Regions from separate parts of the Homo sapiens genome. Here region 1 is reported to be linked to region 2. The links are microRNA targets in miRTarBase. Many come from high-throughput screens and were not tested one by one. Region 2 holds a microRNA gene; the other region holds the end of a gene's coding sequence.
What was found. The annotated mature microRNA hsa-miR-4697-5p reads AGGGGGCGCAGUCACUGACGUG and lies in region 2 at 3,212-3,233, shown strand. An mRNA with a match to its seed (bases 2 to 7 or 8) in the 3' UTR can be bound and repressed. Matches are read on the target gene's strand: a 7mer-m8 pairs with bases 2 to 8, a 7mer-A1 pairs with bases 2 to 7 and ends in A, and an 8mer does both.

Region 1: the mRNA of GNB2 is a reported target of hsa-miR-4697-5p. Seed matches in the 3' UTR shown: 7mer-A1 at 742-748.

What each region holds. Positions count from the first base shown.
Region 1 is chr7:100,678,214-100,683,277 of GRCh38, forward strand. GNB2 (G protein subunit beta 2) reads left to right here. Exons shown (of 10, transcript NM_005273.4): 8 at 1-86; 9 at 185-401; 10 at 482-956. The coding sequence ends at 588. It overlaps GIGYF1 (GRB10 interacting GYF protein 1), which reads right to left. Exons shown (of 27, transcript NM_001375765.1): 22 at 4,799-5,017; 23 at 4,377-4,564; 24 at 4,109-4,269; 25 at 3,859-4,022; 26 at 3,651-3,780; 27 at 1,294-3,558. The coding sequence ends at 3,506. Among named protein-coding and RNA genes, the nearest start is that of GNB2, 7.0 kb to the left of the region's middle. RefSeq lists an enhancer at 1,015-1,144.
Region 2 is chr11:133,896,712-133,901,783 of GRCh38, reverse strand. It overlaps MIR4697 (microRNA 4697), which reads left to right and starts at 3,203; the gene lies at 3,203-3,280. It overlaps IGSF9B (immunoglobulin superfamily member 9B), which reads left to right. Exons shown (of 20, transcript NM_001277285.4): 20 at 1-5,072.

The DNA of each region.
Region 1 (5,064 bases), not on the chromosome of region 2:
ATGCCTCTATCAAGCTGTGGGACGTGCGGGATTCCATGTGCCGACAGACCTTCATCGGCCATGAATCCGACATCAATGCAGTGGCTGTGAGTTTTGGGGCGAGCTAGGCCAGGCCCTCCCCACCAGGCTCCCGGCCCTGCTCCTCACCCTCACCCTCACCCCATCTGGGTCCCGTGTCCTGCAGTTCTTCCCCAACGGCTACGCCTTCACCACCGGCTCTGACGACGCCACGTGCCGCCTCTTCGACCTGCGGGCCGATCAGGAGCTCCTCATGTACTCCCATGACAACATCATCTGTGGCATCACCTCTGTTGCCTTCTCGCGCAGCGGACGGCTGCTGCTCGCTGGCTACGACGACTTCAACTGCAACATCTGGGATGCCATGAAGGGCGACCGTGCAGGTGACAGCTGGGGCCCAGGCTGGGTGGGCAGGGACCTGGAGCCCAGGCCCAATGGGTTCTGACTTCTCTCTTCTTCACAGGAGTCCTCGCTGGCCACGACAACCGCGTGAGCTGCCTCGGGGTCACCGACGATGGCATGGCTGTGGCCACGGGCTCCTGGGACTCCTTCCTCAAGATCTGGAACTAATGGCCCCACCCCCACTGGGCCCAGGCCAGGAGGGGCCCTGCCCATGCCCACACTACAGGCCAGGGCTGCGGGGCTGGCGCAATCCCAGCCCCCTTCCCCGGGCCACGGGGCCTTGGGTCCCTGCCCTCCCACCCAGGTTTGGTTCCTCCCGGGGCCCCCACTGTGGAGATAAGAAGGGGATGGAATGGGGGAAGAGGAGGAGCAGGAGGCCCTCATCCTTCTGCTGCCCTGGGGTTGGGGCCTCACCCCTCTGGAGGGCCGGAGGCAGGAGGTGGAAACCCCAGGGGCTGGCTTTTTTAAAACTGGTTTTATTTTAATTTTTATTATATTTTCAGTTTTTCCATAAAGGAGCCAATTCCAACTCTGTACCTGGTCTCTGCCCTTGCTGTGTTCTCCTTGTTTCTGGACTTTGTTGCCTGAGGGCTGCTGAGGGGGTGGATGGTGGGGAAGGTATGGGGCCTGCCAGGCAGCTGGGGCTGGGGGTGGGGTCCCCACTCTCCCTCAGAGCAAAGCTGAAGCCCCAGCCCAGAGCCTTCCGTCCAGAGGTTCTCGGATAAGCAGCCCTCACCATGGTTTCCCCCGTCAGGCTGCTGACCAGAGCCAGCCTGACCAGGCGGGCACTGCTCAGAGCTCCTAGTTCCCAGCTCTGTGCAGAGCCACTCATCCCCATGGCTCTCCCCAGATAACGAGCAGTGGAGGCGGAACGGGAGAACACACACCAAGTTTTATTGGGAGAAGGGAGTATTTACAGGAGCAGGTAAAAGAGAGGGAAGTCACACAGGGTGGAGAGGGGGCGGGGAGACTGTGGGTACAAGGCAGACAGGGAACACGGTGACCCCTGCACCCACCCCAACCCCAGGAAGGGCAGGGGAGCAGCGAGGGCCCAGGAAGACCGGGGCCGGGGAAGGACAGCAACAGGGTCTGAGTCCCTGGGCAGGGGGGCTCAGGGGCTTGTAAACATTGACCACTCTCAGAAGGGGATGGGGGTGGGAGAGGGCTCCCCCTATACTTCCTCACAGGGTTAAGGCCTCTCCAGGCTCATGGGCCCCCTAAGTCCAAAGTCTCTTTAGCTGGGGAGAAGAGACAGGAAGAGTGTCCCCCTTCCCCTGCATTGGCTGCGGCAGGGGTGGGGGGGTTACATTCAGTCACAACAGGAGTCTCCCCCACACCTGGCAAGAGGGAAGGGGAGCTGGGGGCCAGCAGCAGCAAACACTCCCCCCGGCCCGTCACCCCTTATTGCTTTAGAGAGAATATTGTCTTTTCAGGGACGCTAACACTGTGGGAACCAGGGAGAGGCAGGTGGGGGCCCCCCACCCCGAGGCCAGCTTGATCCCCCAACACTGACCTAGTTGCCACTTTGGTGCAAAAAAAAAAAAAAAAAAAAAAAAATCCAACAACAGAAAACCAAACACCATCTTTCTGGGACTAGATGGGGAAAGAAACGGGCCACTCCCCATGTCCCCAGGGCAGGAGGGAGAAATACATTCATGGAGGGAGGCAGTGGCGAAGCCTTGCCCTAATACTGCACTCTGAGCAATGAGGTCAATGGGAGGAGCTGGATGAGAAACCCAAAAGACAAAACTGTTACAAAACCCAAAATGGGCGGAGACGAACCCAAGTAGGGGACCGGGAATAAGAAGTGGGTGAGCAATAGAAGGGGCAGCCTCCTCTGACCCAGGAGCCGCACACTTCTCTTCACCCCAACCTTACCCAACGGTAAAAAGCGCATCATATCAGACCCGGAAGGCCACCTGCTCCTCTCCCATTTGGTCAGCGGAAGGGTCAGGTGCAGAGCTGGGTGGTCCACATCTTACGAGCTGGCTACAGGTTGGGGCCCCGGGCGGCAGCCCCTCTACTGCAACCCTAAGCCCAAAGCCACCCACTCCTTGCCTTTGAGGCCCCTCCTCCTGCCCCCTTCACTGGAGAAACAGCTCAGCCTTCTCTCTGCAGCCTCTGGAGCAATCATCCACCCCCGCCGCTCACAGGGGTGAGGCAGCTCAGGCAGGGGTGAGGCGGGGGCTTGTGGCCCAAAGAATACATTCACGTGGCAAGGCAGAGAGCTGGGGCTTTCAGGTTCAAACCCAGGGTGTCCCCCAAAATGGCAGCAGTGGGAGACGCCCCTCACCAGAACCAGAGTCCTGCTGCCCCACCCTGCCAGCCAGAGAGGTTGGCACGGCTTGGCCCCTCCCGTCTACTCGGCCAGCACAAGATGGCAGCCAGAGAGCTGGGGCCACTCGTCCAATTTGTGCAACTGTCCCCCAAAGCAGCGAAGCCAAGGGGCTACTTTGGCCCCACCCCGGACACCTCAGCCAGCCTCAGTGACAGGAGCTGCTCACAACAGGTCTGGCGGGTGGGGCTCAGACAGGCCTCCTGTGCAAACTGCTGGCCCCCAGCTTCCAGTTACCCCATGGCCCGCCTTCTGGGGGGTAAGTATGGCCTTGGGGGCCAGGCAGGACAGGTCCACGGGGCCTGTGTCCCCACTGCCCCAAAATAACAGTGTGTTTTTTCTTTCAGCCTCCTAACCATTTTTTTTTTCATTTTTCATCTTTTTTTCTTAAAAAAAAAAAAAAAACCAAAAAACAAAAACCTCTGTGGACCTTCCATTGTCACACCCACTATCCTCACAGCAGGAAGGGGTGTTTAGAGTCTAGTTTTTAACAATATTTTTGCCTCTCCTAATGTTTTCTTCAGTCGTTTAAAATTAAAAAAAAAAATAAAAAGAAAAACCCCCTCCCCCAGTCTGTAAAGTGCCTCGTGGTGGGTGAGTTAAGGTGCATCGTGTGTTTGTAACAAGTGCTGGGGACCCCGCCCCTGCCTCTTCCTGTGCTCTCTGCGGGGAGCCTGCAGGCTGGGACCCTCGGTCCACGCCGCTGTGGCTGCCCTGGCCTACAGCCCAGGGGCTGGGGGTCCGGGCTGGTCAGTAGTCATCCACGCTCTCGATCTCACCAGAAGATCCGTGCAGGGAGTACCCTGAAGCCGGGGAGAAGCTGCGTCTGAGCTCTCTCCTGGGCTCCTCCTGCCCTGTGCCAAGGAAGTCCCGCTCCTGCCCCAGCCCAGCTCACCCAGGATGCTGGGGTCTGAGTGCAGCATCAGTGCCCGCCTCTTGGCCTTGCTGCCCTCCCCGGGGCCGAGTTTGGTGCTGTGGTTGGCCTGGAAGGCCGTCTGCAGCGAGGCGCTGCTCAGCCATGCCTCCTAAGGCAGCGGAGAGGAGGGTGAAGGTCAGGAGGCACCAGGCAAGCCCACCCCAGCTGCTGGTGCCGGCTGCCTCACCTGCTGCTGCTGCCGCTGCTGGCTGGCTTTCTGCTTGGCCCTCCGCTCCAGGAATTGTTTGGCAAATTCTTTGGCTTCCAGCGTGTCCCCCAGGCAGGAACGGATATAATCGTGGACATCATAGGGGGATTCCACCTCCTTGAGGATCGCTACAGCCATGGGCACTGCAGGATGAGCGAAGGCTGTCAGGGCCCCCTGGCCGGGTCTGGAGACCCAGGTCCCGCCCACCTCCTGGGAGCCGCTCGCCCACCGTCCAGGCTGCCCGTGGCGCTCAGCGTGTGCAGCATCTGCTCGCACCACTGGGTGAAGCCGTCCTGGGGCCTGGGAATGCCCTGCAGCAGCTTCAGCAGCTTCTCTTCTTCCTCCGTCTTTTTGCGAATGGGCCGACCCGATAGGTGGCTGTATGAGTCACTGAAGGGGGAGGGTGAGTCAGGGTTGGAAATCAGCTGGCAGGGGTTGGGGGGGTCTGCCACCTTCCCCCTCAGGGCCATCCCGGAGCCTCCAGGTGCCACGCCCACCTGAGAGATGGGCTGCTCCGGCTGTTCTTCAGGCCGAGGCCACGGACCAGGCTCCCGCCGCTCTTGGGGGTGTCCTCCCAGAGCCCCAGGCCGCTGCTGCCGCCCCCACTCTTGTCTGGCCCGCCCCACAGTGGCCCAGCCTCAGACACCCACTGGTTCAGGGGGGCAGTGCCCAGGCCCCCAAGCTGCTACAGATGGCAGAAGATCAGAGTGGCTCAAACAAAGGCACCCCAGAAAAGCGGATGGGGAGGCTTGTTTAGGTGGCAAAGGGAGACAGGTGAGGTGAGGGCCACAAGAGCTGTTGCCATCACAGGAGAGGCTGGGACTGGGGCTGGGGCTGCACAAGTCTGGGTTCAGTATCCCCCTCCCTGTGCCACCCTGGAAACTGTAGGGGGAGCCCGGGAGGTTCCCGGCCTGCTCACCACTCGGTGGTTGGGGGCCTGGGCCCGAGCTGGCTCCCGAGGTGGGGGCTGTTTGTGCAGCTGCCGCTCGCCCTCCAGCTGCAACTCCAGGAGCGTCTTCATGGACAGCCCCTGCTTGGCCAGGCCAGCCCAGAGTGGGGGCGGGGAGCTGGGTGCGGGGGGCACAGGGACCGCCTGCTGCTGCTGTAGCAACTTCAGCAATAGCTCCTGCTGCCGCACCTAAGAGGGGGACATGGTGAGGGGACCTGGCGAGGGTTGTCCACCCA
Region 2 (5,072 bases):
GATTTGTACAGACATGCTGATTTGCCTGCGTAGTGTCAGGCCCAGGAGACCCTCCTTTGTTTGGCTCTTTTGCTAGACAACTTCTGTTTGGGTAGGAGGGTCAAATTAGTAATGCACCATCTTTAATGTATTTTTTATGGAGACTGTACATAAAATTATATAAATCTACAGAATTGGTTCTATTTTAAGGAGAGAGGGGAATGTATGTGGGAGGCAAGGATCAGATGCAATCGTGGAGACTGGGAGCTTCGGGCGAGTGGCACTCGGGTGTGGGGAGCGGGAGGGCAAGAGATGAGTGCCGGGCAAGATGGGCAGGGGCCCGTGCCCTCTGCACACATATATAAATATAAAGAACACCTAGATAAAGTCTATATATCTCTATATCTATATGAAGTCATAGTTTGCTTTATTTTTGTACCTGTGCTTAGAGATGTTTTGAGCAGTGCTACCTTCCCAGGCAGTCTGGGATACTAGCTCATGCCTTGACGCCACCTCCTTCCCTGCTCTTCCTTTGGTATTCTCTCTGTTCAGAGTTGCTTGGGTCTTTCTGATGGAAATGTGTATATATGAAAAGTTTGTAAAATAACAAAACAAATAACCCACCTGCAGGAAGGACAAGTGAGCTGAAGGTTGTGTGGAGCTGCAGGATCTGATAGCCCTAAAGAACCAGGACCAATGTGTCTCTTGCCACTTGGGAGGGATGTTGACTTGAACTTCTTTGCAGAGGGGCTTAACAGGGCAAGGCTGAGGAGATGAAAACTGTGACTCCATCCCCACGTGGCTGTGGAAAGGTAACCAGTTCCTCAGAGAAAACCTGGCTTCACAGCATTAGAAAGGGGGTGGTTGAGACTACCTAGGGACCTACGGTGACACCTGTCTTGGTTTGTAGCACTGTAGCTCAGACAGCTCAGACCGCTCATAGAGGGCATGGCAATGGGAGAGTTTGTGAGGCTGGCTGCCTGGGCTTGGTCTTGGAGAACACATGGCCTGTTTAGTGTTGCTGCAGATTCTTAGAGCCAGTGTGAATGTGGTATGTAGTATAAATATGTCATCTATGTTTTTTTCAGTTATTTTTAATTGGAAATAAAGTGCCATTGCAAATAGGATGCTCCAATCCTGGGACACTGAGTGGAGGATGAGGAGGGAGAGATGAACTGTGGGCCGGCCTGGGAGAGGGGGTCTTAGTGGAACCTTCCTTCTGGCCTCCAGCCGGGGACTTACAAAACTGAACAATGTATTGGCAGAACTGGACCCACAATGGGAGATTCTGGGGAGCAGGAGTTCACTTGTATCTGAGCAGGAAGCAGTGTGCCCTGAAGAATACCTCTCTGAGCAAATTCCAGACCTCACACATATGCAAGGGCTCTGCCTTGCAGCCTCAGCAAGCGTCTCCTGGTGCTAGCTCCTTCCTGACTTGCCCGGAGCTCGGAGTGATGTATTTGAAGCTGGTGCTGGGCCAGATGGTGCAGGCAGTGAGGAGAGACTCAGGACTGCAACCTTTCGGCTCCTTATTCCTGCTCATCACTCAGAAAAGGGCAGTACTAACCCCTTTCCTAACCAAGACATGGCACTCCCTAAGAGCTCTTGTCTATAGAGTTTGGTCCTTAGAGGAAAGCAGATACCTTCAGCGTGAGAAGGGCTTGGTTGACAGTTTTGGGGTATTATGGGAAGAGTAGGTTGGGGTAAAGCTTGAGTCTAACTCTTGATCCTTACATGGACCTATGAGGCCCTGCCATTCAGTCAGGCACTGTCCTTGGGTCCTCAAATTAACTGCTGAGAACACTCCCCACTTTCCGAGGACGCTGATGGGAAATGGGCTCTGTCCATGCAGCTGGAAGGATCCAGTGCTGGTGCCACTGTCAGTGGCACCATCCTTGCCTTGAATGATCTTTCTTGCAGGCTCCTGCAGCTGAGTGTTTCTTGTAAGATTTTTCAGGGGGATTGGGCAAGAAGAAGAGGTGCAAATTCTGTTCCCTTCCTACCTTGAAGCCTTCCCAGACCACCACGGTCTCTGCACAAGGGAGGCTCCCATTACTGTTCTGTTGGCTTCTAGACCCACCATCCCCTCTCTTTCTGTGGACTCTGCCCGACTTCTGGCCACATGCAACCAGCAGAGTAAACTGCTCCAACACCTCGGGCATGTCCTAGGGCTTGCCCTCCCACCAGGGCCAGCCCAAGATTAGGTCCTCAGCAGCATCAAGGTCTGGGAGAGCCACTGGCCCACATGTCACCATTCTATTCCTCAGCCTCCAACAGGACTCTTCATTTTGGGGAGGGAAAGGGAAGATGGGGCCATAGCCCCTACCTTGAAATTGTACAGTGTGGAGGGGATGTTAGTGCCTACCTGTGACCTTTCTGCTCCACTGCTCAGCAAGATGAGGTAAGGTTGGGTGTCAGAGGGGACCTCCAGCTTCTCTGAAGAGCCAGCCCTTAAGGCACTTGGAGCAAAGGTCATTGAGATCAGCTTTATGTGGAGTAAGGAGGAGGCCTGGGAACCGCTTGTGGCATCAGTTGGGGCGACAGGTGGATGAGTGTGCTCTGATGGAGCTTTTACGGCCCACAGCCACTGCCAGGAGCCTGAGCTCTTCCCCATGCTTGGGACACGTTCCTTGGTCCCCACAGCAGAATGGACATTGAATTTTGGTGCTTTTCCCTTTGGTAGAAGGTGGAGGTATCTGAGGAGTTGTTTCTGTCTTGCTACCTCTGTCTACTATATAGAGCAAGAGTCGGGAATAGGGAGATGTGTGAGAATCACTCTCCCATGGATCAGTGTGGGCCCTGTCCCTCTTCCCCACTGTCACCAACCAGCAGCTTGGGGAAAAGGCTCTGTCGTGGATTTTTGCTGCCTGCTTCCCGCTTCCACTCTTCTTGGCGGTAGATGTTCATGGTGATCCACTTTGGGCGGTCTGAAAGTAGGAGGTGGGGGAAGAGGCAAGCCTGCACACACACTTCCTGTCCACAGGGGGTTGCCTGTGGCATTGGAGGGTGGAGTCTCAGAGTCCAGGGACTGGGAGGAAGGTACTTGATGGGATGGTCTTGATTCTGGAACTTTAGACTGAGGTGTTAGAAAGGGGAATTGTTGGCTAGGGGAGAAGAGCAGTTTAACGCTCCACTTGCTAAGTCGTCTGTATCAGTGTCAGAAGGTCTTGACCTCCCATTCAGATTTAATTTCCTAACTGCCAGGTGTGGGGCTGGGGATAGAGGGCCCAGAAGGGGGCGCAGTCACTGACGTGAAGGGACCACATCCCGCTTCATGTCAGTGACTCCTGCCCCTTGGTCTTCAGTGTTTTTCTCTTCCCCAGGAGGGACTTTGATCATGCAGGATAGAATTCTCCCATCGCACACCTGGGGGCAAGTTTTAGATGAGCTTCTTTCCTCCATTTCACCTGGTGGTCTGAGGACACACAGAGGGTGGGGGTGAGCAGGCAGTGTGGGTGGGGAGGGGCTACCTCCCCCAGACCCCTTACAAACTCTGTACCTCTCGGTGCGCGGCAGCCTCTTGCTGTAGTTCTTCTTTTCTGGATATGACTGTCAGTTTCGTCATGAGATTTCTTGCTCTCATTTCGAACTCTTTCTTTCTTCCACTTTCTTTGGGGGCGACCCCCGATCCATGCCAGGTCTTCCTGTGAAGACCGTTCCAACCTCGTTTCCATTTCTTGAATGTTGAGTATTACAACATCACTGCGCTAGGGTGCTTCATGGTGCTGTTCTCGAAGAGGCCAGTTGGGCTGAATCTCCTTCCTCCCACTGGCTCCTGATATCTTGCTGTATTTTGTCTTCTTTCTGATTTTTCCCTAGGGGTTTGGGGTGGGTGACTTAGGGGCGGCTTTTGTGTTCTCCCTCTCTCTCTCTTTCTTTTCTGTATGTATGTATGGACTGGTTAAAGTGAGTTTGGGCAGCTGACTTTATGGTATGGGTTGGCTGACTTTTGTTCAACATTAAAGACAAACCAACAAATTGTACAGCTGCACACAGAACACCTTTGAGTGTGAACTTGAATGGCAACTAGAGGCTTACTTTTTGAACTTCAGGTATGTAACTCAAAAGTAAATAAAACCACTATTTTTTCAGTAAGCTTTTTTTTCTTCTAAAAGATGACTTAGAAATCAAACTATAAGAACATGAAATCGGTGCTGTACCAAAGCCTTATATGAACATATTCTACACTCTGTATAACCTGTCTGTGAGGAGCTCCCTGCTCTATCACCCTCTTCTCAAAAGCCTGGGAATGCCAGCGCGTGCCAAGCCTGGGGCTGGGTCTTGGGGACCTGTGGGCCAAGGGCACCCTGGGAAGTAAAAGATGACGGTGAGGATGGGACACCCTTCTGCTGCCTGAGCAGACTGCAAGGAAACCAGATGTGTGTGTGTGCGCGCACCTGCATATATATGTGTGCATACCTGTGCGTGTGTGTGCGTGTGCGTGTGTGCACGCAAGAGAGTGAGAGCGGGAGAGAGCTCACAGGTGCACAGTGTCATGGTGAATGTACTAAGTACGAGCTTGAAGGGAGGCCCAGGTTGGCTCTGGGAGTGGGGCGGTGTGGGAATGAAGGGGGGATGCTCTCTCCCCTGTTTTCTGCCTCCTTCCCTTCTCCGTCAGGGAAGGGAGGTGTATTGGAAACAGCTACACTCTCAATCAGGTGCTTTTTTTCCCTCAAAATCTCCAAACTCAAAGCATTTATAAGGGGCCCTTCCAATGGGCAGGCACCCCCAGCCACCAAATCACAGACTTCCAAGAGTAGGAGGAACTGTCTCCTCCCGAACCCTTCCTTGCTTTCCTGGGGAAGAGGGTTCTTCCTGCAGGGACCCTGGGCATCCTGCTGCTGGGCCTGGGCCTATAGACTGCCCTGCCCCTTCTTCCCAAACACTGAGAAGACCCCGCTGGAGATGACCCCAAAGCCACGCCTGCTCTACGGCCCTAAGCAATAGACGCCTGCCCTGGCTGCTGATGATGGTGATCCCTTTGTCCTTTGACTTGGCAGTCAAAAATGGAGTGACACCCCAGACTCAGTCAGGAAGAGAACCTGCAGCCTGCCTCAGCTCAGGCTACCACGCCAGGCTCCACTCGCTGGTAT